Linked DNA regions of Homo sapiens: regions 1, 2 and 4 are each linked to region 3. The links come from fine-mapping of genetic effects on gene expression. A gene starts in region 3. Each other region holds a variant in brackets. All regions are shown on one strand. Distances are from middle to middle. Region 1 holds the start of LOC107985567 (protein LLP homolog). Region 2 overlaps MEI1 (meiotic double-stranded break formation protein 1). Region 3 holds the start of CCDC134 (coiled-coil domain containing 134). Region 4 overlaps MEI1 (meiotic double-stranded break formation protein 1).

Region 1 (5,863 bases), 120 kb before region 3:
GTGAGGGGGCAGTGGCTTTAGTCACCAATACCAATCCTGCATGTGCCAAGGGTTACTAGAAACCCTGATTCTCCAACAGTGATTCTCAATTGGGGGTGATTTTACTGCCGGGGGCATTTAACAATGTCCGGAAACATTTTTTGGTTGTGGGGGGGTGCTGCTATTGCCACCTAGCGGGTAGAAGCCAGTGATGCTACTAAACATACAACACACAGGGCAGTCCTCACAACAAATTAACCAGCCCCAAATGTCAACAGCACGGAGGTTGAGAAAGCCAGTTCCAGTGATAGCAATGCTCCAGTTGAGTGTGTATAAGACGACATTTTGAACTGCCAAGGTAGAAACTACCTGGTAGGAGGAGACAGCTCTTCCATAGCCTTCTGGTAAAAAAAAGTCTAAGCAAGTGGCCAGGCGTGGTGGCTCACACCTGTAATCCCAGCGCTTTGCGAGGCTGAGACAGGCAGATTACCTGAGGTCAGGAGTTCAAGACCAGCCTGGCCAACATGGTGAAACCCTGTCTCTACTAAAAATACAAAATTAGCTGGGCGTGGTGACGCACGCCTGTAATCCCAGCTACTTTGGGGGCTGAGGCAGGAGCATCACTTGAACCCAGGAGGCAGAGGCTGCAGTGAGCCGAGATCGTGCCATTGCACTCCAGCCTAGGCAACAAGAGTGAAACTCTTTCACAAAGAAGAAAAAAAAAGTCTTAAGCAGCTATCACCACTCTAGTAAAGCTAAGTATGTCTTCATTCCAATTTTAGCCGGATACTTACTAAGAATCAGGCACTGCCATTCTGTCATCAAAATGGAACAGATTTATTAGGATGCTCACAAGAATGGAGAACACATGAACTAGCACTCTCCTCATGTGACAGAGAGTACATCTGACCCACATGGTGGCAGGACACAGGGGAAGGGCTCTCAGAGCTGGTGCCAAGTGTCCACCAAAGAAAGTCCCATTCACCAGAGACAGGCTGTTTCCTTGGACTCCACCATCTCTGTTACAGCTACCAGCCAGGTCTCCATGATCTTCCTGGAATCCTTCATGCCAGCATCAGTTCATGCTCTCTGAGCTTGTCACTCCCGACTCTTTCAAGACCCAGGTCAACTGCCCCATGGCTCACCCACCCAGGCTGCCTCCGGAGTCCTGCAGCACATCTCTTTGGTATGCTGCTGCCCTGCTACCCTCAAGGGCATGGTTGTGGGTAGGGGGAGAACATCAACATCACATTACCAAAAGCAAACAGCAGGGGTACATTAGTAAACGACACTTGGACATAGCCGAACAACCTCACAGAACACATGCTTCCTCCCCAAATGATACCTAATCCCCCAAGAGCAAATGAAACCCCTTGATCACTTGAACACGTATGAATGATTCTGTGTGCCAGGCACAGGGACACACAATGAATGCTGTTTAATTCCACCACACCCCGCACACAACAGGAAGCTAGTGGCTGAAAGCTGGAACCAGATCTCTGTCCTGGCTCCATCAGCTTTCTCCTGGCTCTTTCTGCCTTTCAACGGTGCCACCACCCTGCTTCTGTCTGCTCTGAACACTTGTTCCAAAAAGGGAGGATAAAAGGATGAAGGATGGCAGAGGGAGGGAGGAAAGGAAGGGGGATAGCAACCCTGTAAAACAGAACAAAAA[C/T]AACACAAAAATCCAGAAACCAGATTTAGTACTACATTTTATAACAATAGAGAGTAGCTGAAAATACTACATGCTAACACAGATAATATGATACACAACCTCAGGGGGGAAGCTGGCAGGGAGCACGTGGCAGAGGCCACAGGTTTAGACTAAGAGCCTTTCAATGGACTGCTGAATGGATTGGATCTGCTGTTTCAGCTGCGAGCCTTCTTTGATGGTGACAGAACAGGCGATGACAGGCCTGGAGACCCCACAGGCTCTCCCCAGGGCCTGCTTGGAGCGCACAAACACGTAGGGCACATTCTTGTCTTCACACAGCAGCGGCAGGTGCAGAATGATCTCCAGTGGCTCGGCGTCTGCAGCCATCACGATGAACTCAGAGATGCCCCTGTTGAGGGTTTTGGTGGCTGCGGAGAGAAGGACGTGAAGCTAATAGGTGATGTGGGCTTGGGCAGGGCAGCCACAACAAACTGGGAAGAATGCCTAGGCACACACAATTATGTGTCCTAGACCGGCCCTGGGATATGATAAAGGATTCAAACACCAGTCAGTCATACACAATGGCATTTTCTCAAGCCCTACATTAAATCCACCACTTATCCTCAAAACACGTCCTGAATCTGACCACTTCTTCTTCTTCTTTTTTTTTTTTGAGATGGAGTCTTGCTCTGTCACACAGCTGGAGTGCAGTGGTGCGATCTTGGCTCACTTCAACCTCCGCTTCCCGGGTTTAAGTGATTCTCCTGCCTCAGTCTCCCAAGCAGCTGGGATTACAGGCACGTGCCACTGTGTTTAGCTAATTTTTGTATTTTTAGTAGAGAGAGGGCTTCACCATGTTGTCCAGGCTGGTCTCAAACTCCTGACCTCAAGTGATCCACCCACCTCGGCCTCCCAAAGTGCTGAAATTACAGGTATGAGCCACTGTGCCTGTCCTAATCTGACAACTTTTTTCTTTCTTTTTTTTTTTTTTTTCTTTTTTTGAGATGGAGTCTCACACTGTCGCCCGGGCTGGAGTGCAATGGCGCAATCTTGGCTCATTGCAACCTCTGCCTCCCAGGTTCAAGTGATTCTCCTGCCTCAGCCTCCCAAGTAGCTGGGATTACAGGTGCCTGCCACCATGCCCAGCTAATTTTTTGTTTCACTATGTTGGCCAGGCTGGTCTCAAACTCCTAACCTTGTGATCCACCCACCTTGGCCTCCCAAAGTGCTGTGATTACAGGCATGAGCCACCACGCCTGGCCCTGACCACTTCTTTCTACTCCTCTGCTATACTCGTCCAAGTCACCATCATCTCTTACCTTGTCAACTGCAACAGCTTCCACAAACCCCCACCAGCAAGTAGTAGTATATTAATAATATAGTATTTCTCAAGGTATCTGTGACTGAGAGTCAGAGTTTTACCATCTCAATCTGCCATAATCAATACTTCTAGAAAGCTGATCCCACATGCGACTCACCATGCAAGTTCAACACCCCACAGCACCGTTTCAGATGCGTACTCTCCTGACTGCTTGCCTCTGTGGCTCAGTGCGAATACTCTGCATTCATGCTGGAGTACTTGAGAAGGGCACACACTCTAGAGCTACACTGTCTGAGTGCAAATGCTGGCACTCATTCTTGTTACACAAATGACCTTGAGCAAGGTGTTTAACTTCCCTTACTTTTATCATCTATAAAATAATTCTACCTAACAGGATTCTACCTAATAAAAAAAGAATTACCTAATTCTTTTTAACCTAATTCTTTTTTTTTTTTGTATCAAAGAAAATATTTTATTCAAGTTCCCAAAACAAACTTCAGGAGTTATGCTGGGTTTGAATTGAAGAAAAAAGGCCAAGTTAAAATAGGAAAACAAATGGTTTTCATTTGGTGGCAGCTGAAATCAAAGTATACATGTATATACATTCTAATCCATCATCTATCCCATGTGGCATTTTCCAAGGTTTTAAGAGTCTACCACGCCAAACCCTTTGCCACTTTCACTGCTTTTGCTTTGCTTTTCCCCTTTCTTTTCTCTCGCTTTGCCGTCAGCCTTTTTCTTTGCCTTTGGTTCATCCATATTGGGTACTGTCCATGCTGGTCTAGAAGAGTCTTTTTGTTTCTCTTAGTATCAGTCTCCCTTTTCATGTCATCTTTTTCATCTTTTACCTCACATTGCATTTTCTCTTGGCAATGTTTGGGTACCACCACAGTTGCTATCTCTTGAACATCTTTCATTAAAACATCACCGTCTAGTTTGAGAATACTTTTAAGCCTGCTGGCCTCCTTTGGGGCATTCTTTTTTCTCTTTTCAGCACGCATCTTTCTTTTCCACTTACTCCGTAAGCTTTTAGCCATGTTTCACCTGAGAAACGAACACCCACACCTCAGCTCTTTTTAACCTAATTCTAATTACCTAATAATTCTACTTAATAGGATTATTGAAAGGATTAAACCAGTTAATAAGAATGATGAGGCTGGGCATGGTGGCTCACACCTGTAATCCCAGCCCACTGGGAGGCTGAGGCAGGTAGATTGTTTGAACTCAGAGTTTGAGACCAGCCTGGGCAACATGGCAAAACCCCATCTCTACTAAAAATATAAAAAATTAGCCAGGTGTGGTGGCGTACACCTGTAGTTCCAGCTACCTGGGACGCTGAGGTGGGAGGATCACCTAAGCCCAGGAGGTCGTGGCTGCAGTGAGCCATGATCAATGCCAATGCACTCCAGCCTGGGCTGCAGAGTAAGACCCTATCTCAAAAAAAAGTAAAATAAATAATAATAATAATACCTGACACATGGCAAATGCAAAGCATGTTCATTTCTATTGATATTACTATAGCTTACTCACCCTACAAAAGTCATAGGAGTGACTCTTTTATAAGTGTTAAGTAAGATCATAGCAATCTTGCTGTTCAAAATCCTTCTACTCATTTACCATTGTACTCACTGCTAACAGTGGCCTACATGGTCTCATGTGATCTCCTAGTACCTCTCATCCCCACACTTAGTTCCAGCCACACACCAGCCTCCTTAGAATCCCTCAAGCATGCCTTTACACCATGCCCAAAAACGTTTCTTTCCAACACCCTCATCTATTCAGTTCTCTGCTCAAACTCCTCAGACAGACCTTCTCTGAATACTCCATCTAAAAAGACCCACCACTGCCATTCCTATCCCCCTTCTCTACTTTATTCTGTTTTACAGCATTCTTTTTTTTTTTTTTGAGACGGAGTCTCACTCTGTCGCCCAGGCTAGAGTGCAGTGGTGAGATCTCGGCTCACTGCAAGCTCCGCCTCCCGGGTTCACACCATTTTCCTGCCTCAGCCTCCTGAGCAGCTGGGACTATAGGCGCCCGCCACCACGCCCGGCTAATTTTTTGTATTTTTGGTAGAGATGAGGTTTCACCGTGTTAGCCAGGATGGTCTCGATCTCCTGACCTCATGATCTGCCCACCTCGGCCTCCCAAAGTGCTGGGATTACAGGTGTGAGCCACCGCGCCCGGCCTCTTACAGCATTCTTTACCACCAGGCATAAAACCTATGTCTTTCTCCACTGGAATGTATACTCCAAGAAGGCAGAGACTTCATTTTGTTCACCAGTGCATCATCAGCATATATACATGCGCCTGGCACATAGCAGGCAATCAATAAATATGGCAAGAAAGAATACCTGACACTGAGGCAGAAGTACGGAAAATTGTTGCATCTCCCTCCCTGAACTCCCAGTAAGCATATTCTGAATTAAGTCGCTGAGACTGAGCATCTCCATTCAAGGACCTGTGTGCTTATCACCGTGCAAAGTATGGCAAGAGGAAATAAGGTTGCTCTGTGTCCATGAGTCCTCATCTACCTGAAGTGTAAGAAGTCACATCCCTGCCCAGCCAAGCTGACCTGAGTGCATCAAGTGAGAAGAGAGACCTCCCAGGAGAGCTGGTGGGTCACCCTACAATGCCCCACTGGCCACTGCTATACCAGGCACTGCAGTTACTGCAGTGTGACGAGCAGGGAGGAAAGAGCACTACGACGAGACCCACAGAGTCTACTTTATCTTCCTTCAGCAACACAGGTAAAAGCGATTGTAATAGTTCTCCTAAATCTCAAACACAGTTGACAAAATCTCTGATGTTTCCATTAAAAATCTTCAACGACAAAAGAGCTCTACCACATCAAACTACCCAGCATCTATTAAAATGAGAGTATTCTGGCTGGGCATGGTAGCTCACGCCTGCTG
Region 2 (7,646 bases), 40 kb before region 3:
GCCTCAGCCTCCCAAGTAGCTGGGACTACAGGGGCCCGCCACCTCGCCTGGCTATTTTTTTGTATTTTTAGTAGAGACGGGTTTTCACCGTGTTAGCCAGGATGGTCTTGATCTCGTGACCTCGTGATCCGCCAGCCTCGGCCTCCCAAAGCTTGCTTTCTTTTTTCTGAGATGGAGTTTCGCGCTTGTCATTCAGGCTGGAGTGCAATGGTGCCATCTCAGCTCACTGCAACCTCTGCCTCCCAGGTTCAAGCGATTCTCCCACCTCAGCCTCCCAAGTAGCTGGGATTACAGGCGCCCGCCATCATAGCCGGCTAATTTTTGTATTTTTGTAGGGACGGGGTTTCACTATGTTGGCCAAGCTGGTCTTGAACTCCTGACCTCAGGTGATATACCCTCCTCAGCCTCCCAAAGTGCTGGGATTACAGCCTGGCCCACAGTTTCTTCCTCTTTGACCTTTCCTTCCCCATGCCAGGCAGCCTGAGTCACTCCCTCCTCAATATAGCGCTGATCACATGTCCTGCAATTGCCTGTCTCATTATGTGTCTCTTCCCATCAGCTGCCAGTTCCTGGAGGTAGGGCCTGGGTCTCACAGCCTGTCCTGAGTAGTAGCCACTCAATGAACATATGTCAAATGAATGAAAGAATGAATGTTTTTGGGAGGCCAAGGTGGGTGAATCACCTGAGGTCAGGAGTTTGAGACCAGCCTGGCCAACATGGCAAAACCCTGCCTCTACTAAAAATACAAAAAATTAGCTGGGCGTGGTGGTGGGTGCCTGTAATCACAGCTACTTGGGAGGCTGAGGCAGGAGAATTGCTTGAACCCAGAACGGGGAGGTTGCAGTGAGCCGAGATCATGCCATTGCACTCCAGCATGGGCAACAGAGCGAGACTCTGTCAAAAGAAAAACAAAACAAAAAAGGAATGAACGTTAATTTTTGAGACATATCCATGTCCTTCTGCTTGTGAAGTTTAGTCTTTCCCGGTAGGTTGAACCTTGCTCAAAGGAAGAGGAGCCTCTGATTTCCTTATTTCCCACTATACTGCATTTACCCTTGCTGCCCTGTGCAGTACTCTGCATGTAGTAGGTACTAATGTGCTGATTACCTGTTCTTCTATGTTCTCTGTGTGGCTTTCCTCTACTTATTCCCTCCCTAGAACTCTCTGCAGTGTCTGAGCTCCTGCAGCATGGGCTGCCCCAGATAAGCAGCAGGAGCCCTGAAAGCCTTGCCTTCCTGTCTGATCGCCAGTACATGGAGGGAGCTGCTCGCCAGAGACAGTACTGCATCCTGCTCCTCTTCTACTTGGCCTACATCCATGAAGACAGGTCAGTGCACAGAGGTGGGTGGCTGGTGGTGGGTCTTGGGACCTTCATCAGCAGTTCAGTTCAATAAATAAGGGCATCTCTCCAAGCCTGATGCTGGGCACTGGGGACACGGGGATAAGTAAGAAATGGGTTGTGTCCCTGAGAGGCTCATATCTTAGAAGTGGGTTAGAACAGGTGGGTAGACACTGTGCTGAGAGACAGAGGCCTAGAAAGCCAGTGAGTATTCCTTGCTATCCTTGAGGGTGTTGTTTGTCCACAGAAAAAAACTTCAGTAGGTTACTTTGGTTTTAATCATTACTGTTCAATTTATTACATTTTTAAAATCATGGCTGGGCATGGTGGCTCACGCCTGTAATCCCAATGCTTTGGGAGGCCAAGGTGGGCTGATCAGTTGAGGTCAGGAGTTCGAGACCAGCCTGGCCAACATGGCGAAACCCTGTCTCCACAAAACATACAAAAATTAGCCGGGCATGGTGTTGCACACCTGTAATCCCAGCTACTCTGGAGGCTGAGACAGGAGAATTGCTTGAACCCAGGAGACAGAGGTTGCAGTGAGCCAAGATTGTGCCACTGCACTCCAGCCTGGGTGACAGAGTGAGTGAGACTCCATTTCAAAAAGGATATAAAAATAAAAATAAAAGGGCTGTTCTTTCTTAAGCTGTAAGAAATAATTTGTTGGGCCGGGTGCAGTGGCTCACACCTGTAATCCCAGCACTTTGGGAGGCCGAGGCGGGTGGATCACCTGAGGTCAGGAGTTTGAGACCAGCCTGACCAACAAGGTGAAACCCTGTCTCTACTAAAAATACAAAAATCAGGCCGGGCGCGGTGGCTTACTCCTGTAATCCCAGCTCTTTGGGAGGCCGAGATGGGCAGATCACGAGGTCAGGAGATCGAGACCATCATGGCTAACAAGGTAAAACCCCGTCTCTACTAAAAATACAAAAAAATTAGCTGGGCATGGTGGTGGGTGCCTGTAGTCCCAGCTACTCGGGAGGCTGAGGCAGGAGAATGGTGTGAACCCGGGAGGCAGAGCTCTCAGTGAGCCGAGATCGTGCCACTGCACTCCAGCCTGGGCGACAGAGCGAGACTCCGTCTCAAAAAATAAATAAATAAATAAATAAATAAATAAAAATAAAAATACAAAAATCAGCCGGGCATGGTGGCAGGCGCCTGTAGTCCCAGCTACTCGGGAGGCTGAGACAGGAGAATTGCTTGAACCCAGGAGGTGGAGGTTGGAGTGAGCCAAGCTCATGCCACTGCACTCCAGCCTGGGTGTCAGAGTGAGTGAGACTCCATCTCAAAAAGGATATAAAAATAAAAGGACTGTTCTTTCTTAAGCCGTAAGAAATAATTTATTGGGCCGGGTACGGTGGCTCACATCTGTAATCCCAGCACTTTGGGAGGCCGAGGCGGGTGGATCACCTGAGGTCAGGAGTTTGAGACCAGCCTGACCAACAAGGTGAAACCCCATCTCTACTAAAAATACAAAAATCAGGCCGGGTGCAGTGGCTCACTCCTGTAATCCCAGCTCTTTGGGAGGCCGAGATGGGTGGATTACGAGGTCAGGAGATCGAGACCATCATGGCTAACACGGTGAAACCCCGTCTCTACTAAAAATACAAAAAAATTAGCCGGGCGTGGTGGTGGGTGCCTGTAGTCCCAGCTACTCGGGAGGCTGAGGCAGGAGAATGGCGTGAACCTGGGAGGCAGAGCTTGCAGTGAGCTGAGATCGCGCCACTGCACTCCAGCCTGGGCGACAGAGAGAGACTCTGTCTCAAAAAAAAATAAAAAAAAGAATAAAAAAAATAAAAATGAAAATACAAAAATCATCCGGGCGTGGTGGCAGGCGCCTGTAGTCCCAGCTACTGGGGAGGCTTAGACAGGAGAATTGCTTGAACCCGGGAGGCGGAGGTTGCAGTGAGCTGAGATCGTGCCACTGCACTCCAGCCTCGGTGACGGAGTGATACTCTGTCTCAAAAAATAAATAATTAATTAATAATAATAATTTATTGGCTGGGTGTAGTAGGACGAGCCGTAGACAGAACCTCTCAGACACCGAATTGTAGAAGGAAGGGCTTTATTCAGCTGGGAGCATTGGCAAGCTACTGCCTTAAAATCTGAGCTCTCCAAGTGCACAATTTCTGTCCCTTTCAAGGGCTCACAGCACTAAAGATTTCACATGAAAGGGTCGTGATTGATTTGAGCAAGCAAGGGGTACGTGGCAGGGGCTGCATGCACCGGCGGTCAGAGTGAAACAGAACAGAGCAGGGAGTTTCACAGTGTTCTTCCATACAATGCCTGAAATATATGTGTAACATCGGGTTCTAAGTCATGAGTTGATTTTTAACCGCTAGGTTTAAGCCAGGCAGGCCCAGGCCTGGTTTTGGGCCTGGCGCCGGGCTGCCTGGCTTTGATTTCACTTCTTTGTTTTTTTTCTTAAAACAGGTACTGAGTAGAAAACAATATAAAACAATATGAGAGGGTCTGTCTCTTCCCTCACGGGTGCGGTGGCTTACACCTGTAATCTCAGCACTTTGGAAGGCTGAGGTAGGTGGATCACCTGAGTTCAGGAGTTCAAGACCAACATGACCAACATGGTGAAACCCAGTCTCTACTAAAAATACAAAATTAGCTGAGTGTGGTGGCGAGCGTCTGTAATCCCAGCTACTGGGGAGGCTGAGGCAGGAGAATCACTTGAACTTGGAAGGCAGAGGTTGCAATGAGCTGATATTGTGCCATTGCACTCCAGCTTGGGCGACAGAGTGAGACTCAGTGTTTTTTTTTT[GT/G]TTTTTTTTTTTTGAGACGGAGACTCACTCTGTCGCCCAGGCTGGAGTGCAGTGGCCCAATCTCGGCTCACTGCAAGCTCTGCCTCCCGGGTTCACGCCATTCTCCTGCCTCAGCCTCCTGAGTAGCTGGAAATTCAGGTGCCCGCTACCACGCCCGGCTAATTTTTTGTATTTTTAGTATAGACGGAGTTTCACTGTGTTAGCCAGGATGGTCTGGATCTCCTGACCTCGTGATCTGCCCGCCTCGGCCTCCCAAAGTGCTGGGATTACAGGCGTGAGCCACTGCGCCCGGCCGACTCAGTCTTAAAAGAAAAAAAAAATTATTAAGGTAAAATTTACACAACATAAGCTTGACCATTTTAAAGTGAACAATTCAGTGGTATTTAATAGTACCTTTAAAATGCACAACCACCACCTTCATCTAGTTCTAGAACATTTCCATCACTGCAAAGCTGTCACTTCCGTTCCTCCTCCCCAGCTCCTGGCAATCAACAATCTGTTCTGTCTCTTTGGAGTTACCTATTCTGAATATTTCACATAGATGGAATCATACAGTGTGTGACTTTTTGTGTCTGGCTTCTTCCACTTAGCATATCATTTTAGAAGTCCATCCAGTGAGCATAATGTTTGTACCGTGTATCAGTACTTCATTCCTTTTATGGCTGATTAATATACCTTTGTATGTATACACCATAATTTGCTTTTATTCACCTATTGGTGGACATTTGGGCCTATCCACCTTTTGGCTATTGTGAATAGTGCTGTTGTAAACATGTGTGTACATGTATTTGTTTGAGTAGTGTTTTTAATTCTTTTTGGGTATATTCTCAATCCTCTCACCTTGGCCTCCTCAAATGCTACCATTACAGGCGTGAGCCACTGCACCTGGCCTCCTGTTTGCTGTCTTTTCGCTTTCTTTTCTTTCTTTCTTCCTTTCCTTTCCATTCCTGTCCTGTCCTATCCTGTCCTTTCCTCTTTTCCCTCCCCTCCCTTCACCTCCCTTCCTCTTACTTCCCCTCCCCTACTCTACCCTCCCTTTTTCCTTACCTTCCCCTTCCCCCTTCCTCTCCTTTCCTTTTGTATCTTGCTCTCTTACCCAGGCTGAATTGCAGTAGCACAATCATGGCTCGCTGCAGCCTCAACCTCCTGGGCTCCAGCGATCCTCCCATCTCAGCCTCCCATGTAGCTGGGACTATAGGCATGCGTCTACACAACCAGCTAATTTAACTGATTTTTTTTTTTTTTTTTGTAGAGAAGAGGTCTGACTATGTTGCCTAGGCTGGTCTCGAACTCCTGGCCTCAAGCAGTTCTCCCACCACAGCCTCCCAGAGTGCTGGGACTCTAGGCATGAGCCATCACACCTGGCCGTTTTCACTTTCTTAGTGGTATCTTTTAAGCACAAATGTTTTTAATTTTGATGACCTCTAATTTATCCATTTTTTTCTTTTGTCATTTATGCTTTTGGTGTTATATCTGTTAAATACACCACTGTTTAATGATAAATACAAGAAGAGAGGGGTGGAGCAGCTGCCAGAGCAGGGCCTTCTGAACCCCAGCAGTAGCACCCTTCTCTTTAACACTGCTGGTCCAGCTGGCAGATAGCTCACCTCCCAAGTGTGAATGAGGAGTATTTGGCCCCTAACTGAGCCTTGCACAAGGCACAGAACAATGTGATGTATATATATGGCAGTGCTTTGTAAGTATGTATAGCACACTGTTTGTCTAAGATGTCATTAGGCTGTGGGCATATTGGGGCAGGACAGTGGGCTGAGGAAGGATGCGGCCAGGCAGAATAGAAGAGCCCAGTGGCCTGCCAACTCTGCCTTTCTCACTCAGGCTTTTCTTGGTTGACAGGTTTGTCTCAGAGGCAGAGTTATTTGAGGCTGTGCAAAGCTTCCTCCTGTCGCTGCAGGACCAGGGCGAGCGCCCCCCACTGGTGGTCTTCAAAGCCTCCATCTATCTGCTTGCAATCTGCCAGGACAAAGACAATACACTACGTGAGGTATGGACCACAATGCCTGGGCTCCTTGTCCTTCTGTACCTCTTTACATTAGTGTTCCCTGGGAGACCATGATGATGATAGTGTATAGACAAGCGGGTGGTAGAGAGAGACAAAGCGGAGGTGTTAGGAGTGTGGAGAGGAGTAGGATGCAGACTCATACAGAGCCTGTATAATTTACCTAATTATCTCAGCCTTCCTGGGAGGAAGAGATTATTTGCATTCTACAGATAAGAAAATCGGGACTGAGGCTGGGCACGGTGGCTCACGTCTATAATCCCAGCACTTTGGGAGGCTGAGGTGGGCGGATCACTTGAGTTCGGGAGTGCAATGGTGTGATTTCGGCTCACTGCAACCTCCACCTTCTGGGTTCAAGCGATTCTCCTGCCTCAGCCAGGAGTTCAAGACCAGCCTGGGCAACATAGTAAGACCTTGTCTCTACAAAATATTAAAAATTAAAAAAAAACAACAACTCTTTGGTCACCTTTGGAGGATGCTATGCAACAAACTCATGTTTTTGAAAACTGGTAACCACAGGAAAAGAATCAAGCACTTAACCTATGTTTCCTATGTAATCTAATCTAACCCTTCAGAGTAACTGAATAGTTAATGAGGGGAAGTTTCCTTTTTTTTTTTTTTTTTTTTTGAGACGGAGTCTCGCTCTGTCACCCAGGCTGGAGTGCAGTGGCAGGATCGCTGTGGCAGGATCGCTGCTGACCACAACCTCCACCTCCTGGGTTCACGCCATTCTCCTGCCTCAGCCTCCTGAATAGCTGGGACTACTGGCGCCCGCCACCACACCCGGCTAATTTTTTGTATTTTTAGTAGAGACGGGGTTTCATCCTGTTAGCCAGGATGGTCTCAATCTCCTGACCTCGTGATCTGCCCGCCTCGGCCTCCCAAAGTGCTGGGATTACAGGCGTGAGCCACCGTGCCCGGCTGGAAGTTTCCTTTTATACAAGTATTTAAGTTAATAAACAGATAATGACAGAACTAGAATATTATTGTTTTGTAATCCCTAATTAATTAGTGGATCTAGGCAATGATCACCAGTGGCTGCTACTAGCACAAAGAGAGAGACAACAGGACATTGTGTGCCCAGGTGTGTCTTACTTGAAAACCCATTCACTTCCACTATGCCTTTCTGTTTCCACTCAAATTAAACCAGGTCTACTCTCATCACATTTGCCTCAACAGTAATCAAAAAGAGGCAAAATTAATAGTCAATGGAGGAAGAGTGCCTTTAGCTTTAGACTGAAGGGTCCACACTAAGGAACAGAAGCAATATTCTATGAAATAGGTGAGAGGTTCAGTGATGAATCAGACGTGGTCCTTGATTCCAGGAGTTTATAAGGAAGCTGGAGAGAGAAAACTTGTCCACACACAACCACCACGAAAGTGATCCAATAGCCTAATTAACAATGATCTGAGTCCCAGCAATCCACTTTCTTTAATAAACTGTTACCAGAAGAAGATACCAATACCTTAGAGCTCTTTGCTCCTGTACCAACCAGAGGTGGTACTAAGGAATGAG
Region 3 (7,646 bases):
CTCCCGCCTCAGCCCTCCGAGTAGCTGAGACTACAGGTGCACACCAGCATGCCTGGCTAATTTTTGTAGATACAGGGTTTCACCATGTTGCCCAGGCTTGTCTCAAACTCCTGAGCTCAGGTGATCTGCCTGCCTTGGCCTCCCAAGTGCTGGGATTACAGGCATGAGCCACTGTGCCTGGCCCATGAACAAAATTATTTAAAACTGCATAAAATTACCTTCAGGTGGCCAGACGCGTGGCTCACGCCTGTAATCCTAGCACTTTGGGAGGCCAAGGTGGGTGGATCATCTGAGGTCAGGAGTTCAAGACCAGCCTGGCCAACATGGTGAAACCCTGTCTCTACTAAAAATACAAAAATTAGTCGGCTGTGGTGGCACACGTCTGTGATCCCAGCTACTTAGGAGGTTGAGACAGGAGAACTGCTTGAACTTGGGCGGCAGAGGTTGCAGTCAGCTAAGATTGCACCACTGCACTCCAGCCAGGGCGACAGAGCAAGACTCCGTCTCAAAAAAATAAAAAATTACCTTCTGGCTATGTGTACAAGGTGTATATAAAACAAATGAATTTTGTGTTTAGACTTGGGTCCCATCCCCAACATATCTCATTATTATAGGCAAATATTACAAAATTCGAAAAAAAATCTGAAATACAAAACACTTCTGGTCCCAAGAATTTTGGATAAGGGATACTCAACCTGTACCTACCTCCTAGGGTTGTAGCAAGGACTTAAATGAGTTAATATATGTAAAGCACCAAAAACAGCTCCTGGCTTGGTGTGAATGTTATATTGGTGTCTGTTATTATTCCTACTCCCTTTCCAAATAACGAAACTGAGGCCAGAGACATTCAGTCGTGCCCAGAATCACAGAGCTAGTGATACAATCAGGATTTGACCTCAGATTTGCCTGTCTCCAAAGCTACATCACCGAACTCAGAAAGGAGCTAGTCCTTCCCCCATGAGCTTTGGAGACAGTTGTCCAAGCGCAGTTGGTTCAAGTGATCCTCAGCCCAACACACACACACACACACACACACACACACACACACACACACACACACACACACATAGTGTGTGTCTCTGTGACTGCCATGTTCTTAAGAAAGCTTGGATGGCCAGGTGCACACACACACACACACACACAATGTGTGTGTGTCTGTGTGACTTCCATGTTCTTAAGAAAGCTTGGATGGCCGGGTGCAGTGGCTCACGCCTGTAATCCCAGCACTTTGGGAGGCCAAGGTGGGCAGATCACCTGAGCTCAGGAGTTTGAGACCAGCCTGGCCAACATGGTGAAACCCCATCTCTACTAAAAAATACAAAAATTAGCTGGGCGTGGTAGCATGAGCCTGTAATCCCAGCTACCCAGGAGGCTGAGGCAGGAGAATCACTGGAACCTGGGAGGCAGAGGCTGCAGTGAGCCAAGATCGCGCCACTGTACTCCAGCCTGGGCAACAGACCAAGACTCCGTCTCAAAAAAAAAGAAAGCTTGGGGGCCGGGCGCAGTGGCTCACACTGTAATCCCAGCCAAGGTGAGTGGATCACTTGAGGTCAGGAGTTCTGAGACGAGCCTGGCCTACATGGTAAAACCCCATCTCTACTAAAAATACAAAAATTAGCCGGGCATGGTGGTGCATGCCTGTAATCCAAGCTACTTGGGAGGATGAGGCAGGACAATCACTTGAACCTGGGAGGTGGAGATTGCAGTGACCAGAGAGCCGAGATTGTGCCACTGCACACTCCAGCCTGGGTGGCAGAGTGAGACTATGTCTCAAAAAAAAAAAAAAAAAGCAAGCTTGGGGCTGTGGCAGTGGTCAGAGACCCTCTGGTAGGTGGCTGGTTGCACCCAGAGACACTGCAGTCCAGAGATACTGCAGTCCAGAGGTGTGTGTGAGGGTAGTTTGCTTCCTCTGCACCCCTCTGGCTGCCTCCCTGGCTCTCTTCCTTGCCCCTTCCGTGCAATAGTTCCCTGTTGAATAGCAACTACCTAGCCCAGGTGTTCAGGACCCAATTTCAGAATCCATCCCACTATTCTCAGGAGCACTTCTGTTCTTGCCTGACCATTCTTGACTGTTTTGGGCTCTGGAAGTGTGATGCCCCCATGGTTGGCCCCACTTCTCTGCTGTTTTCCTCTCATGTTTTGCTGCCAGCTGCCTGGGAGGGGTGGCTGTATCCCTGTCCCACATCAGAAACTGATCCTCAGGACTTGAAGGCCCAGAAGTGGAGAGAGAATGAGACCTGGAGACAAAGGGCATAATTGTTGGGGAAATGGATGACAGCTGAAGCTATTCATATGGAGCCATATACTCTATTGTTGAAATAGAATAAGGAAATAAAATGATACACTCACATACCTGCGCGAGCTCTCCAAAAACACTGTACTACCTTGTCTACCAGGAGCTGGTTTCTCAGCCAGTTGGATAAGGGATTGTTTCAGCAAGGAGACTGATGGCCTCCTCAGGGAAGGAGGGACGGGACAGGATTTGTTCTTGTAACAGCATTCAAGGAGTCAGCTGGGTGCCTCAGCTGTACTCAGAGAACACCAGTCAGGCCATCCTGGGGCTGGCAGGGCAGAGAAAGGCCTAGGGGTTGGGGCTGCTGCGATTCAACAGCTCCCAGAGGCACTTGACCTGCTCCCTCGCCTCACGTGGAGGTGGATAGAGGTAAACTTTCCAGGCAAGGAGGGTCAAATTCTCAGCTTTCCTATCAGAACGAAACTGTCCCAGCCTCAGCCCTTGTCTGGCTAAAGTAGGTCACCTCTGTCCCTTCCCGTACAGCCGTCATCAGAACTGGTGTTTATGCACCCTCGTGGGTAGATCCTGGGAATGCATGTCCAGCTTGGTCCCCGGCATGAGGTCTGCGCTCGACAGTGCCTGCCCTGCGCCTGTTCTGGGGAGCTCAGCCCAGACCGGGCCTCCAGCTCCCTTCCCGCCCGGCAGGGGCCCCGGGCCCGGAGATGGCCACGCCACGCTGCCTTCTCGGGTCTGACTGTCCTGATCCTGCGCAAAAGTGGGGCTGCACTCGGCCTAACGAACGGACGAGGAAGCCCCCGCCGCACTTGGCTTATTAGTTGGTGGACCGGAGGGGCAAGGAGGGGATGCCCGAATCCTGCACTGAGTCTCTGAGGTCCTTAAAGAAGAACAAAAGTGCTAGTCACCGCCCACTAAACTCACGTTGCGATCTAAAGTTTAAAAACTCGGCCACAGACGACGACACAGTTTCAGGGAGGGCGCGCAGAAGGTCGCCCGGCCGACAGGAGCTGGGACCCCAGTTTGCTGATTCACGCCTTAAATTGGGCACAGACCCCACCCACAGATTTAACTTCCTCCAACACAAGCTAAATCCAGGGCCACGTACCCAGGGCCCGCAGGAGGGACAGGACGAGGATGGTGCCCACAGCGCGCTGGAGGCACGCCAGAGCCTGGAGGGGCAGGCAGGGGCGGTGGAGCGGGGCCGGAAGTGAGGCTAGCGGAGCCCCGCAGTGGCGGCTCGCGCTCATTGGCCGGGAGCAGCGCGGTGGGCGGGACGGAGCTCGGCGGTCTGCGCTCGGTTGCTAGCCGTTTGCTCCCGCTTTCAGTTGCTTTGCTGTTAGCCTGTTGGACCTTCGAGCCTAGCTGCTCGCACAGGACTCGGCCACCTGCCCTTCCTGCACCGACTGGCCAGGTAGGTGGCTGTAGGGGCCGCGGGCTGCAGGTTCCCGGGAAGGATAATGAGAGAACCGAGGGCCTCGAACCGGCTGCAGGTGGTGGGGAGGGAGTTTCGTGGACCTGGACGCCTCTGTTCCTTGAGAAGGCTCGCTCCCTCCTCCGGGAGCTCCGAAGGCTCGGGGTCAACCACCTGGGCCCCCGACCCCGGTAGCTGGCTCAAGGCCCGCCACTACCTGGTACCTCTGCAGGAGTTCAGAGCCTCATGCTGAGCCAGGAGGAGCTCCGGGTGACGCATACGGCAGGATCGGGATTGAGAGGCTGAAAAAGTGAGTTTAACAGTAGAGAAAGCAGGACCTGTCCCGCAGGCTGCTGTTCTGGCTTTTCTTTCCCACTACCTGCTTCAGTCATTGCCAGCTGTCTGGTATTCTCCTTGGCCCCTAAAGTTTTGCCCTAGCCTGGTTCTGGTTCCCTTGAGTTTGGAGCAGGAGGTGGAATGTGGAGGGTCCTGGGTGAACTTGGACTATTCCTTCTCTAGGTTTCACTTATCTCGTCTGCTTGGGGGTAGGGGGTTCTCCGGATGATCTCTGCAGCCCCTCACTGTCTGTAACTGAGCATCTCTCCCCTGGGGCAGGTGTCCTGGTAGTTCAGTAGCCAGCTCTGATCTCAGGTAGCCTGTGCTCATTTACAAAGAGTCAGAAGACAGAGCACTGGACTTAGAGCCAAACAGACACTTGGTTCAGCCTGGGAATAGCTGTGTGACTTTGGGCAGTCACCTCATTTTTCTGTGCCTTGATTTCACATTGGTAACATTGGGGAGTTGTAATCTGAGTGTGAGACCTCTCCTGACCACTTTATGTAATCTTGTACCTGACCGACACCCTCTCATCCCTCTGTGCTTATTTTACAAGTTTATTGATCAACTCTTATCCCTACTAGAGACAAGTACCATGAGTGCAGAGATTTTTGCTTATTTATTGCTGTATTCCCGCCTCTAGAACAGTGCCTAGAGTGTGGTAGGTACTGTCAACCTAAATAGCAGAGTGAGAGACTCTAAAAAAATGATGTTTACTTGGGAATAGACATTGTAGTGACAATATGTGTGCCATAGTAACCTGTGTACGTATTTGGGGAGGTAAAGGAAGACAAAGGTTTTGAAAAGGAAAAATGAGGATTACATGATTATTTTGAGATAGTTATCCTTGGCTACAAGGATGAATAGCAAGAGTGGTGCTAGTCTGAGGTTGGACAGGCAGTTGCAGGGCAGATGTCCTCACAGAAAGATTTTTCTGTGTAAGTTTGCAGTGGCCTTTGTGCAGGGTTGTGGTTTTTGCATTTTTTGTGATCTTGTTATCAGTCATTTGTGCATAAGAACCCTCTTTTCACAACCTTCCTCGGTTTTATTTGTCAGAGTTGTTGTTCTTGTTTTTTCCCATTGGAGAATCATGCTTTAAATTTGTCAGAGTTTTTAACACAAACGACTCTGTTTTGATTCTAACAACTTTCATATTTCCCCCTTTTGGTCAAGATCTTTCTCCAAAAACTTTACTGATCAGTCATCCTGTAGTTAGGTCCCTCAGTGCTGGGACGGACCTATCTTGGGTTGTTGGTCTCTTGCCATGTTGGAGACTAGGAGTCTCCAGTTGGAGACTGGTGACTAGGAGTCAGTGTCAAAACCCTTGTAGTGGTTGGGAGCAGGGGCTCACGTCTGTAATCCCAGTACTTTGGGAGGTCAAGGAGGGAGTATCACTTGAGTCCAGAAGTTCAAGACCAGCCTGGGCAACCGCCAAGGCGGGCGGATCACCTGAGGTTGAGAGTTCGAGACCAGCCTGACCAACATGAAGAAACCCGTCTCTACTAAAATACAAAAATATATATAAATAACATCCGGGCGCGGTGGCTCACACCTGTAATCCCAGCGCTTTGGGAGGCCGAGGCAGGCGGATCATGAGGTGAGGAGATCGAGACCATCCTGGCTAACACGGTGAAACCCCATCTCAACTAAAAATACAAAAAATTAGCCGGGCGTGGTGGCAGGTGCCTGTAGTCCCAGCTACTTGGGAGGCTGAGGCAGGAGAATGGCGTGAACCCAGGAGGCAGAGCTTGCAGTGAACCGAGATCGCACCACTGCACTCCAGCCTGGGCGACAGAGCAAGACTCTGTCTCAAAAAAATAAAAAATAAAAAAATAAAAAATAAATAAAATAAAATACAAAAATTAGCCGGGCGTGGTGGCACATGCCTGTAATCCCAGCTACTAGGGAGGCTGAGGCAGGAGAATCGCTTGAACCTGGGAAGTGGAGGTTGCGGTGAGCCGAGATCGCACCATTGCACTCCAGCCTGGGCAACAAGAGCGAAACTCCGTCTCAAAAAAAAAAAGTTATCTGGGCATTGGTTGGGGAGTGTGCGGGAGTCAGTTGGGTAGAGGATCACTTAAGCCCAGGAGTTTCAGGTTATAGGGAGCTATGATTGTACCGCTGCACTCCAGCGTGGGTGACAGAGCGAGACCCTGCCTCAAAAAACCCCAAATACCTTTTAGCCACATTTGAGCAGCAAGGGAGGTTTGGAAGGAGTGGCTCTCAAGGTATGTCTACCTGGAGTTCATTGTTAAGTTCAATTTTGGCTGTTCCATAGGCATTTGCTGTCATTGCAAACTTCTGGGCCAGCATTATTCTGTCAGGAGTGATACTTCAACAAAAATTTAAAAAGTAATAGGTATAAAGTTTAAAAAGAAAATAGGGCTGGGCACGATAGCTCACCCCTGTAATCCTGGCACTTTGGGAGGCCAAGATGGCCAGATTGCTTGAACCCAGGAGTTCGAGACCAGCCTGGCCAAGATCATGAAACCTCGTCTCTACAAAAAATACAAAAATTAGCCAGGCATGGTGATGCACACCTGTAATCCCAGCTACTCGGGAGGCTGAGGCAGGAGAATCACTTGAACCCGGGAGGCAGAGGTTACAGTGAGCCAAGATGGTGCCACTGCACTCCAGCTCGGGCTACAGAGTGAGACTCTGTCTCCAAAAATAATGTAAAATAAATAAATAGGAAAATAGGAAGTAATAGCAATGTGATAATCTCAGTTTGCATAATAGTTCTGAGAGGCCCACCGTGGTGGCTCACGCCTGTAATCCCAGCACTTTGGGAGGCTGAGACGGGCGGATCACGAGGGCAGGAGATGGAGACCATCCTGGCTAACATGGTGAAACCCCGTCTCTACAAAAAATACAAAAAAAATTACCCGGGCGTGGTGGCGGGCACCTGTAGTCCTAGTTACTCGGGAGGCTGAGGCAGGAAAATGGCGTGAACCTGGAAGGTGGAGCTTTCATTGAGCCGAGATTGCACCACTGCACTCCAGCCTGGACGACAGAGCCAGACTCCTACTCAAAAAAAAAGAAACGAGTAAGAGTCTCAAAATGATATGGAATCTTGTTCCAGTGTCTTCGGAAAAGCTATCTACAGTATGAAACCATCAACTTCTTATCCTGGTTTGCAGTTTGAATGTCTCTGGTTATGGCATTGGGATGTTTGGTGAACTTCCTGTGTGACCCATACATTAGGCACAAGGCTTGTACCTTAAAGTTCATCTAGTTTCAACTTACAGGGCTTCAGGAACAGAGCAGTGCCAATTTTTAATAATTTCATGAAAGAAAGTTAGATTGGAGGAATCTAGAATTCAGGAGCTAGTCCAGTATACAAGTAGATAATGAGAACTCAAAAACAATGCACAGGGCTGCAGTCTAATAACAGATGTACTATAGCTTTTTTTAGAAACAAAATTTTCTCTTTACAGTGATCACATAGGAATAACAGATTTAAAAACCATTTAAGGCTAGGAAGCAAAACCAAGGCAGACTTTAGATTTTACTTAACAGTCTTAAGGTTCCTGGGCCTGCCAGGAAGTGACAGATTTTACTCATTCACTGTAAGGCTGGGAATCTTTGAAGGCAGGCTTTCTATGTACATTCTCAAGTATGATATTCTAGTTAAAGCCCTGGTAATAT
Region 4 (7,646 bases), 65 kb before region 3:
TGGCCTCTGTCATGTCATCCTGTGGTAGGGATCGAGGCAGTGGTGAGGAGCCTGCAGGGAAGCCTGAAGATGAACAACATAGAGCTGCACAAGCAGGGCCTGCTGCTTTTCGCTGAAATCCTGACCCGGTGAGCAAAGTGGTGGAACATGAGGCTTGTAGGGGCCAGACTGCAGAAGGAAAAGTGGGCTTTCACTCCTGGTGGGGTCAGTGAGAAGAGTTCACCTACTCGTTTCTCATCTTCCATTTCTCAGGCAGCCAGAGGAGATCAAGCTGTTCACAAGCTCAGCCATGTGCAGAGATGCTGGCCGTGCCCTCCAAGAAGCAGTTAGCAGCCCTGTGCTGGAGGTGGCTGCTGAGGCCTTGAAGGCCACTTCTGCTTTTCTGAGGTGAGAGACCCAGGCAGGCTGAACTTTCCATCCCTGCATATACCTAAGGGCCTGTTGAGGCCAGGGTAGCGGATATTTAAGTATCCCTAGATTACTTATAATACCTAATATAGTTGGCCCTTCATAATTGTGGATTCCACATCCATGGATTCAACCAACCATGGATTGAAAAATTTTTTTTTTTTTTTTTTTTGGAGATGGAGTTTTGTTCTTGTTGCCTAGGCTGGAGTGCAATGGTGTGATCTCAGCTCACTACAATCTCTGCCTCCTGGGTTCAAGTGATTCTCCTGCCTCAGCCTCCCAAGTAGCTGGGATTACAGGTGTGTACCACCATGCCCAGCTAATTTTTGTATTATTATTAGAGGCGAGGTTTCACCATGTTGGCCAGGCTGGTCTCGAACGCCTGACCTCAGGTGATTCACCTGTCTCAACCTCCCAAAGTGCTGGGATTACAGGCGTGAGCCACCGCATCCAGCTGAAAATTTTAAAGAATGGATGGTTGTGTCTGTATTGAACACGTACAGACTTTTTTTCTTGTTATTATTCCCTAAACAATACAGTATACGTTGGACATGGTGGCTCACACCTGTAATCCCAGCACTTTGGGAGGCCAAGGTGGGTTGGATCACCTGAGCCCAGGAGTTCAAGACCAGCCTGGGCAACACAACAGAACCTGTCTCTACTAAAAATCCAAAAATTAGCCAGGCATGTTGGTGCACACCTATAGTTCCGGCTGCTTGAAGGCTGAGGTGGGAGGATTGCTTGAACCTGGGAAGCAGAGGTTGCGGTGAGCTGAGATCACACCACTGCACTCCAGCCTGGGTGACAGAGTGAGACCTTGTCTCAAAAGAAAAAAGAAAAAAAGAAACCAGGCCAGGCACAGTGGCTTATCCCTGTAAACCCAGCACTTTGGGAGACCAAGGCAGGTGGATCACTTGAGTCAGGAGTTCGAGACCAGCCTGGCCAATGTAGTAAAATCCCATCTCTACAAAAACTTAACTGGGCATGATGGCGCATGCCTGTAGTCCCAGCTACTCAGGAGGCTGAGGCACGAGAATTGCTGCAGAGGTTGTAGTAAGCCAAGATTGCGCCACTGCACTCCAGCCTGGGTGACAGAGCAAGGCTCTGTCTCAAAAACAAAACAAAACAAAACACCCAAACAGTATAATAACTATTTATATAGCATTTGCATTGTATTAGGTATTATATGTAATCTAGAGATGATTTAAAGTATACTGGAGGACCACGTGCGGTGGCTCATGCCTATAATCCCAGCACTTTGGGAGGCCAAGGTCGGCGGACCACCTGAAGTCGGGAGTTTGAGACCAGCCTGGCCAACATGTAGAAACCCTGTCTTTACTAAAAATATAAAAAATTAGCCGGATGTGGTGTCACACACCTGTAATCCCAGCTACTCAGGAGGCTGAGATAGGACAATTGCTTGAACCTGGGAGGCGGAGGTTGCAGTGAGTGGAGATCACACCATTATACTCCAGCCTGGGTAACAGAGTGAAATTCTGTCTCAAAAAATAAAATAAAATAAAATAAAATAAATAAAGTATGCTGGAGGATGTGCATAGGTTATATGCAAATACTATACCATTTTATGTAAGGAGCTTGAGCATCCTGGTTTTGGTATCTTCAGGGGTCCTGGAACCAATTCCCCACAGATACTGAGGGACGACTATGCAATGTCAATGCAATGTAGACGGGGCGCGGTGGCTCACGCCTATAATCCCAGCACTTTGGGAGGCTGAGGCGGGCCAATTACCTGAAGTCAGGAGTTCAAGACCAGCCTGGCCAAGATGGTGAAACCCTGTCTCTACTAAAAATACAAAAATTAGTTGGGCATGATGGCGCTTGCCTGTAATCCCAGTTACTCAGGAGGCTGAGGAAGGAGAATTATCTGAGCCTGGGAGGCGGAGGTTGCAGTGATCTGAGATCTTGCCACTGTACTCCAGACTGAGGCCACAGAGTGAGACTCCATCTCAAAAACAAACAAACAAACAATGGAATGTAAATAGTTGTCATGCTGTATTTAAAATTTTTTTTGAGATGAAGTTTCGCTCTGTCGCCCAGGCTGGAGTGCAATGGTGTGATCTTGGCTCATTGCAACTGCTGCCTCCCAGGCTCAAGCAATTCTCCTGCCTCAGCCTCCCGAGTAGCTGGGACTACAGGTGCGTGCCACCATGCCCAGCTAATTTTGTATTTTTAGTAGAGATGGGGTTTCGCCACGTTGGCCAGGGTGGTCTCGAACTCCTGACCTCAGGTGATCCACCTGTGTCGGCTTCCCAAAGTGTTAGGATTACAGGTATGAGCCACTTGCACCTGGCCTACATTTTATATATTTTTTTATTGTATTTTTTTCTTTTTTTTGAGATGGAGTCTCCCTCTTTCACCCAGGCTGGGGTGCAGTGGCGTGATCTTGGCTCACTGCAACCTCCGCCTCCCAGGTTCACGCCATTCTCCTGCCTCAGCCTTTCTAGTAGCTGGGACTACAGGCGCGCGCCACCACACCTGGCTAATTTTTTTGTATTTTTAGTAGAGACGGGGTTTCACTGTGTTAGCCAGGATGGTCTCGATCTCCTGACCTCGTGATCCGCCCGCTTCGGCCTCCCAAAGTGTTTTTTTTTTTTTTTTTTTTTGAGATGGAGTTTTGCTCTTGTTGCCCAGGCTGGAGTGCAAAGGCATGATCTCGGCTCACCACAACCTCTGCCTCCCGGGTTCAAGTGATTCTCCTCCTGCCACAGCCTCCCGAGTAGCTGGGATTACAGGCATGCACCACTACACCCGGCTAATTTTGTATTTTTAGTAGAGACGGGGTTTCTCCATGTTGGGCGGGCTGGTCTCGAACTGCCGACCTCAGGTGATCCCCCACCTTGGCCTTCCAAAGTGCTGGGATTACAGGCGTGAGCCACCGTGCCCAGCCATATTGTTATTTTTTTTATAGATTTTAAAAAATATTTTTGGTCCACAGTTGATTGAATCCATAGATGTAGAATCCACAATACAGAGGGCCAAATTATACTTCCAAAGTGTTATGTTATCATGTCTTTTGTATTTTCTCTGTTGTTTTGAATTTATATCTTGAAAGAAAATTCTCTTTCATTTTGGTAAGGAGTAGCAGAGGTAACTGTATCTGTTGACTCCATCACCTTTAATCAGAAGCTGGCAGCTCTTTAACACCTATGAACTCCAGCCTCTAGCCCTGGTTCTCTTACTGTAGTTCCTCTTTGAATGCTCTCAGCCACTCACAGAGCTTCAGCTACTAGCTATATGTTGATAATGCTCAAATCTATAGTTCTTGCCTAAAATGCCTGTGTTAGTTTCCTATTGCTACAGGACCAGATTACCACAAACTTGAAAACAACAGGTATTTACCTTCTCATGGTTCTAGGGGGCCAGAAGTCCAAAATCAGTATCACTGAAATGAAATCAAGGTGTCAGCAGGGCCACACTCCCTTTGGAGCTTCTAATACGGAACACTTCCCTGCCTCTTCCAGCTTCTGGTGGCTCCGGGCATTCCATGACTTAAGGTCATATCACTGTAATCACTGCCTCTGTGACTACATTGTCTTCTCTTCTCTATGTGTATAATCTCCCTCTGCCTTTTCTCTTTCTTTTCTTAAATTTTTTTCTTTTTTCTTTTT[CT/C]TTTTTTTTTTTTGAAACGGAGTCTTGCTTTGTCTCCCACGCTGGAGTGCAGTGGCGTGATCTCAGCTCACTGCAAGTTGTGCCTCCCGGGTTCACGCCATTCTCCCGCCTCAGCCTCCCGAGTGGCTGGGACTACAGGTGCCTGCCACCATCCCTGGCTAATTTTGTTTTTGTATTTTTAGTAGAGACAGGGTTTCACCGTGTTAGCCAGGATGGTCTCGATCTCCTGACCTTGTGATCTGCGTGCCTCTGCCTCTCAAAGGGCTGGGATTACAGGCGTGAGCTACCGCGCCTGGCCAAAAAATTTTTTTTTATTTTTTGTAGAGATAGGGATCTTGCTATATTCCCCAGGCTGGTCTTGAGCTTCAGGCTTCAAGTGATCCTCCCACTTTGACCTCTCAAAGTACTGGGATTACAGGCATGAGTCATTATGCCTGGCTGCCTCTCTCTCATAAGGCTACTTATGATGGGATGTAGGGGACCACCTGAATAATCCAGGATAATGGCTTTATCTCAGGATTCTCTGTGAAAACTTTACTGTAGAAAATAACATAGGTTCCTGGGATTAGGACCTGACATCTTTGGGTACCACCATTCAGCCCACTATAGTGTTTTCCTGAACTCCAGACCACATTTCCAACTGCCTGGTGCTTTATTCCAGAACCTTCAATCTCAATTTGTCCATGCTACTAGCATATAGAGAAAAACACCCAATTTGGGATCTAAAGAATTAGATTTGGGTCCCTGGCTCCACAAACAGTACTCAGTCACTTCTTGTTCATTCCTCTGATCTGCTTTCTGTTTCTTGAACACATCAAACTTATTCCTGCCACTAATTATTCCAACTCTGCCCAAAATAATATTCCCTTAAATCATTGTGTGACTGCGTTTTTCTTATCATTCAAGTCTCATTCAGAATTTCCTTTCCTAATTGACCTTATCAGACTGCTATAGCACCTATCAAACATTTGAAAGTTATTGTTTATTCTTTTTTTTTTTTGAGACGGAGTCTTGCTCTGTCGCCCAGGCTGGAGTGCAGTGGCGCGATCTCGGCTCACTGCAAGCTCCGCCTCCTGGATTCACGCCATTCTCCTGCCTCAGTCTCCTGAGTAGCTGGGACTACAGGCGCCCACCACCACGCCCAGCTAATTTTTAAAAATATTTTTAGTAGAGAAGGGGTTTCAGTGTGTTAGCCAGGATGATCTCGATCTCCTGACCTCATGATCTGCCTGCCTCGGCCTTCCAAAGTGCTGGGATTACAGGCGTGAGCCACCGCGCCCGGCCTCTTTTTTTCTGGGGGGTGAGGGGTCAGAGTCTCACTCCGTCACCCAGGCTGGAGTGCAGTCATGCGATCTTAGCTAACTGAAACCTCTGCCTTCTGGGTTCAAGCAATTTTTCTGCCTCAGCCTCCCAAATAGCTGGAATTACAGGCGTGAGCCACTGAACCTGGCCTATTCATTTGTTTTGTACCCCGCCTCCCCCCACTAAAATATAAGCTCCAGGAGCTAAAGGACCTTGTCAGTTTTTTCACTGCTCTGTCTCTGGCTCCTCATAGGTAGTCAATATGCGAATGTAGGATGTTAAAATGGACAGTGAGACTAAGGGATCCTAGCACCACAATGGGAAATTATTCCTTAGCAAGGTGCTTGAAATCTTAAAAAATAATAATAATAACCGAGGAAACCCATATTTATAGAGTAACTTTTATTTTGTTACCATATTTTCTCTTTTAATTTTCTAACACAGTAATGTATTCAAATAATACAAAACAAAATATTGGCTGGGCACGGTGGCTCACGCCTGTAATCCCAGCACTTTGGGAAGTCAAGGTAGGAGGATCGCTTGAGGCTAAGCGTTTGAGACTAGCCTGGACAACATAGCGCCACCCCATCCCTACAAAACAATATAAAATAAAATAGGCCAGGCACAGTGGCTCATGCCTGTAATCCCAGCACTTTGGGAGTCCGAGGTGGGTGGATCACAATGTCAGGAGATTGAGACCATCCTGGCCAACATGGTGAAACCCCATCTTTACTAAAAATACAAAAATTAGGCTGGGTGTGGTGGCTCATGCCTGTAATCCCAGCACTTTGGGAGGCCGAGGCGGGCGGATCACGAGGTCAGGAGTTCGAGAACAGCCTGACCAACGTGGTTCATCCCCGTTTCTACTAAAAATATAAAAATTAGCTGAGCACAGTGGCGGGTGCCTGTAATTCCAGCTACACAGGAGGCTGAGGCAGGAGAATCGCTTGAACCTGGGAGGCGGAGGTTGCAGTGAGCCGAGATCATGCCACTGCACTTCAGCCTGGGCAACAGAGCGAGACTCTGTCTCAAAAACAAAACAAAACAAAACACCAAAATACAAAAATTAGCTGGGCGTGGTGGCACATACCTGTAATCCCAGTTACTTGCGAGGCTGAGGCAGGAGAGTCACTTGAACCAGGGAGTTGGAGGTTGCAGTAAGCCAAGATCACGCCACTGCACTACAGCTTGGTGACAGAGCAAGACTCTGTCTCAAAAAAAAAAATAAATAAATAAATAAGTAATAAAATAAATAAATAAAATTAGCTGGGTGTGGTGGCATGCACCTATGGTCCCAACTACTTGGGAGGTAAGGCGGGAGGATCACTTGAGCCTGGGAGTTTGAGGTTACAGTGAGCTATGATCACACCGCTGCACTCCAGCCTGGGTGACAGAGTGAGATCCTCTCTTGAAAATAAATAAATAAATTATAGAGGATTTATCATGAAAAGGAATAGGCTGGGCATGGTGGCTCACGCCTGTAATTCCAGCACTTTGGGAGGCCGAGGCAGGTGCATCACCTGAGGTCAGGAGTTCAAGACCAGCCTGGCCAACATGGCAAAACCCTGTCTCTACTAAAAATACAAAAAAAAAAAAAATTAGCTGGGCGTGGTGGCGAGTGCCTGTAATTCCCGTCTTAAATTTAAGACATTATTCATTGACTTGCCAGTTAGAAAGATCAATATTTAATTAGCTCACATTTTTTGTCTTCTCTACATGTCCTTGGCATTTTTGCTATTTAATATTTTGTTTTTAACCTTTAAATAATGTACCTAAAACTGGTATTTCTTGTTCCCTCAACTTGAAGCAGTGTCTCCTGAGTTCCTACGTGGTTAGCAGCACCCCAACTCTTCTTTTCCCCTCTCTTCCCTACTTCTACTTCTCAAGGCCAGTCAGCTATACCTTTAATTTTACATTGTGAAAGTTGTTAATATTTATAGTCTCTTCTGTAACTATATTTAAGTCTTTGTGATTTGACTCTAGGTTGGTTCTAAAAATTGAAACAAAAAATAGCATTTACGTGACAGTGACTTCAGTCTGTCTTCTTTCCTCCTTTGTCCTTCCCTGAATTTGAATCTCTAAATCTAGGACATGAATTCTAGAGTGGGAGGGATGAGTAAACCAACAAGGTAACAAAAGCATAAGTAAGAGCAATGTCAATCAGAGGCATCTATGCTGAGCTGGAAGTCTTCCAGCAGGACACTGCTAGAGGGGACCAGTAGTGCCTTTTGGGCAGGAAGTGGTATTTCAGTTGTACTATGAAGGGTGAGAGTTAGATTTGTGGAAGGACCTGGATTAGCAAAACA

Evidence for each region. PIP is the estimated chance that this variant, and not a neighbour inherited with it, causes the effect. A credible set is the group of variants that fine-mapping cannot tell apart.
Region 1: its variant is the best candidate, but not a certain one, in a credible set for the expression of CCDC134 in whole blood (INTERVAL, PIP 0.59).
Region 2: its variant is the best candidate, but not a certain one, in a credible set for the expression of CCDC134 in monocytes after LPS (Fairfax 2014, PIP 0.52).
Region 4: its variant is the best candidate, but not a certain one, in a credible set for the expression of CCDC134 in whole blood (INTERVAL, PIP 0.67).

Annotation. Positions count from the first base shown.
Region 1 is chr22:41,673,138-41,679,000 of GRCh38, forward strand. It overlaps SNU13 (small nuclear ribonucleoprotein 13), which reads right to left. Exons shown (of 3, transcript NM_001003796.2): 3 at 796-2,058. The coding sequence ends at 1,796. It overlaps LOC107985567 (protein LLP homolog), which reads right to left and starts at 4,023. Exons shown (of 1, transcript XM_047441692.1): 1 at 2,065-4,023. The coding sequence starts at 3,988. The coding sequence ends at 3,605. The variant C/T (reference allele first, on the strand shown) is at 1,652.
Region 2 is chr22:41,757,207-41,764,852 of GRCh38, forward strand. It overlaps MEI1 (meiotic double-stranded break formation protein 1), which reads left to right. Exons shown (of 31, transcript NM_152513.4): 18 at 1,159-1,327; 19 at 5,968-6,115. Among named protein-coding and RNA genes, the nearest start is that of CCDC134, 40 kb to the right of the region's middle. The variant GT/G (reference allele first, on the strand shown) is at 4,113.
Region 3 is chr22:41,797,105-41,804,750 of GRCh38, forward strand. CCDC134 (coiled-coil domain containing 134) reads left to right here and starts at 3,575. Exons shown (of 7, transcript NM_024821.5): 1 at 3,575-3,662. MEI1 (meiotic double-stranded break formation protein 1) reads left to right here. Exons shown (of 31, transcript NM_152513.4): 31 at 2,150-2,350. The coding sequence ends at 2,195. RefSeq lists enhancers at 2,396-3,382, 3,158-3,237, 3,308-3,387 and silencers at 2,858-2,947, 3,538-3,597.
Region 4 is chr22:41,732,217-41,739,862 of GRCh38, forward strand. It overlaps MEI1 (meiotic double-stranded break formation protein 1), which reads left to right. Exons shown (of 31, transcript NM_152513.4): 10 at 29-128; 11 at 253-387. Among named protein-coding and RNA genes, the nearest start is that of MEI1, 37 kb to the left of the region's middle. The variant CT/C (reference allele first, on the strand shown) is at 4,038.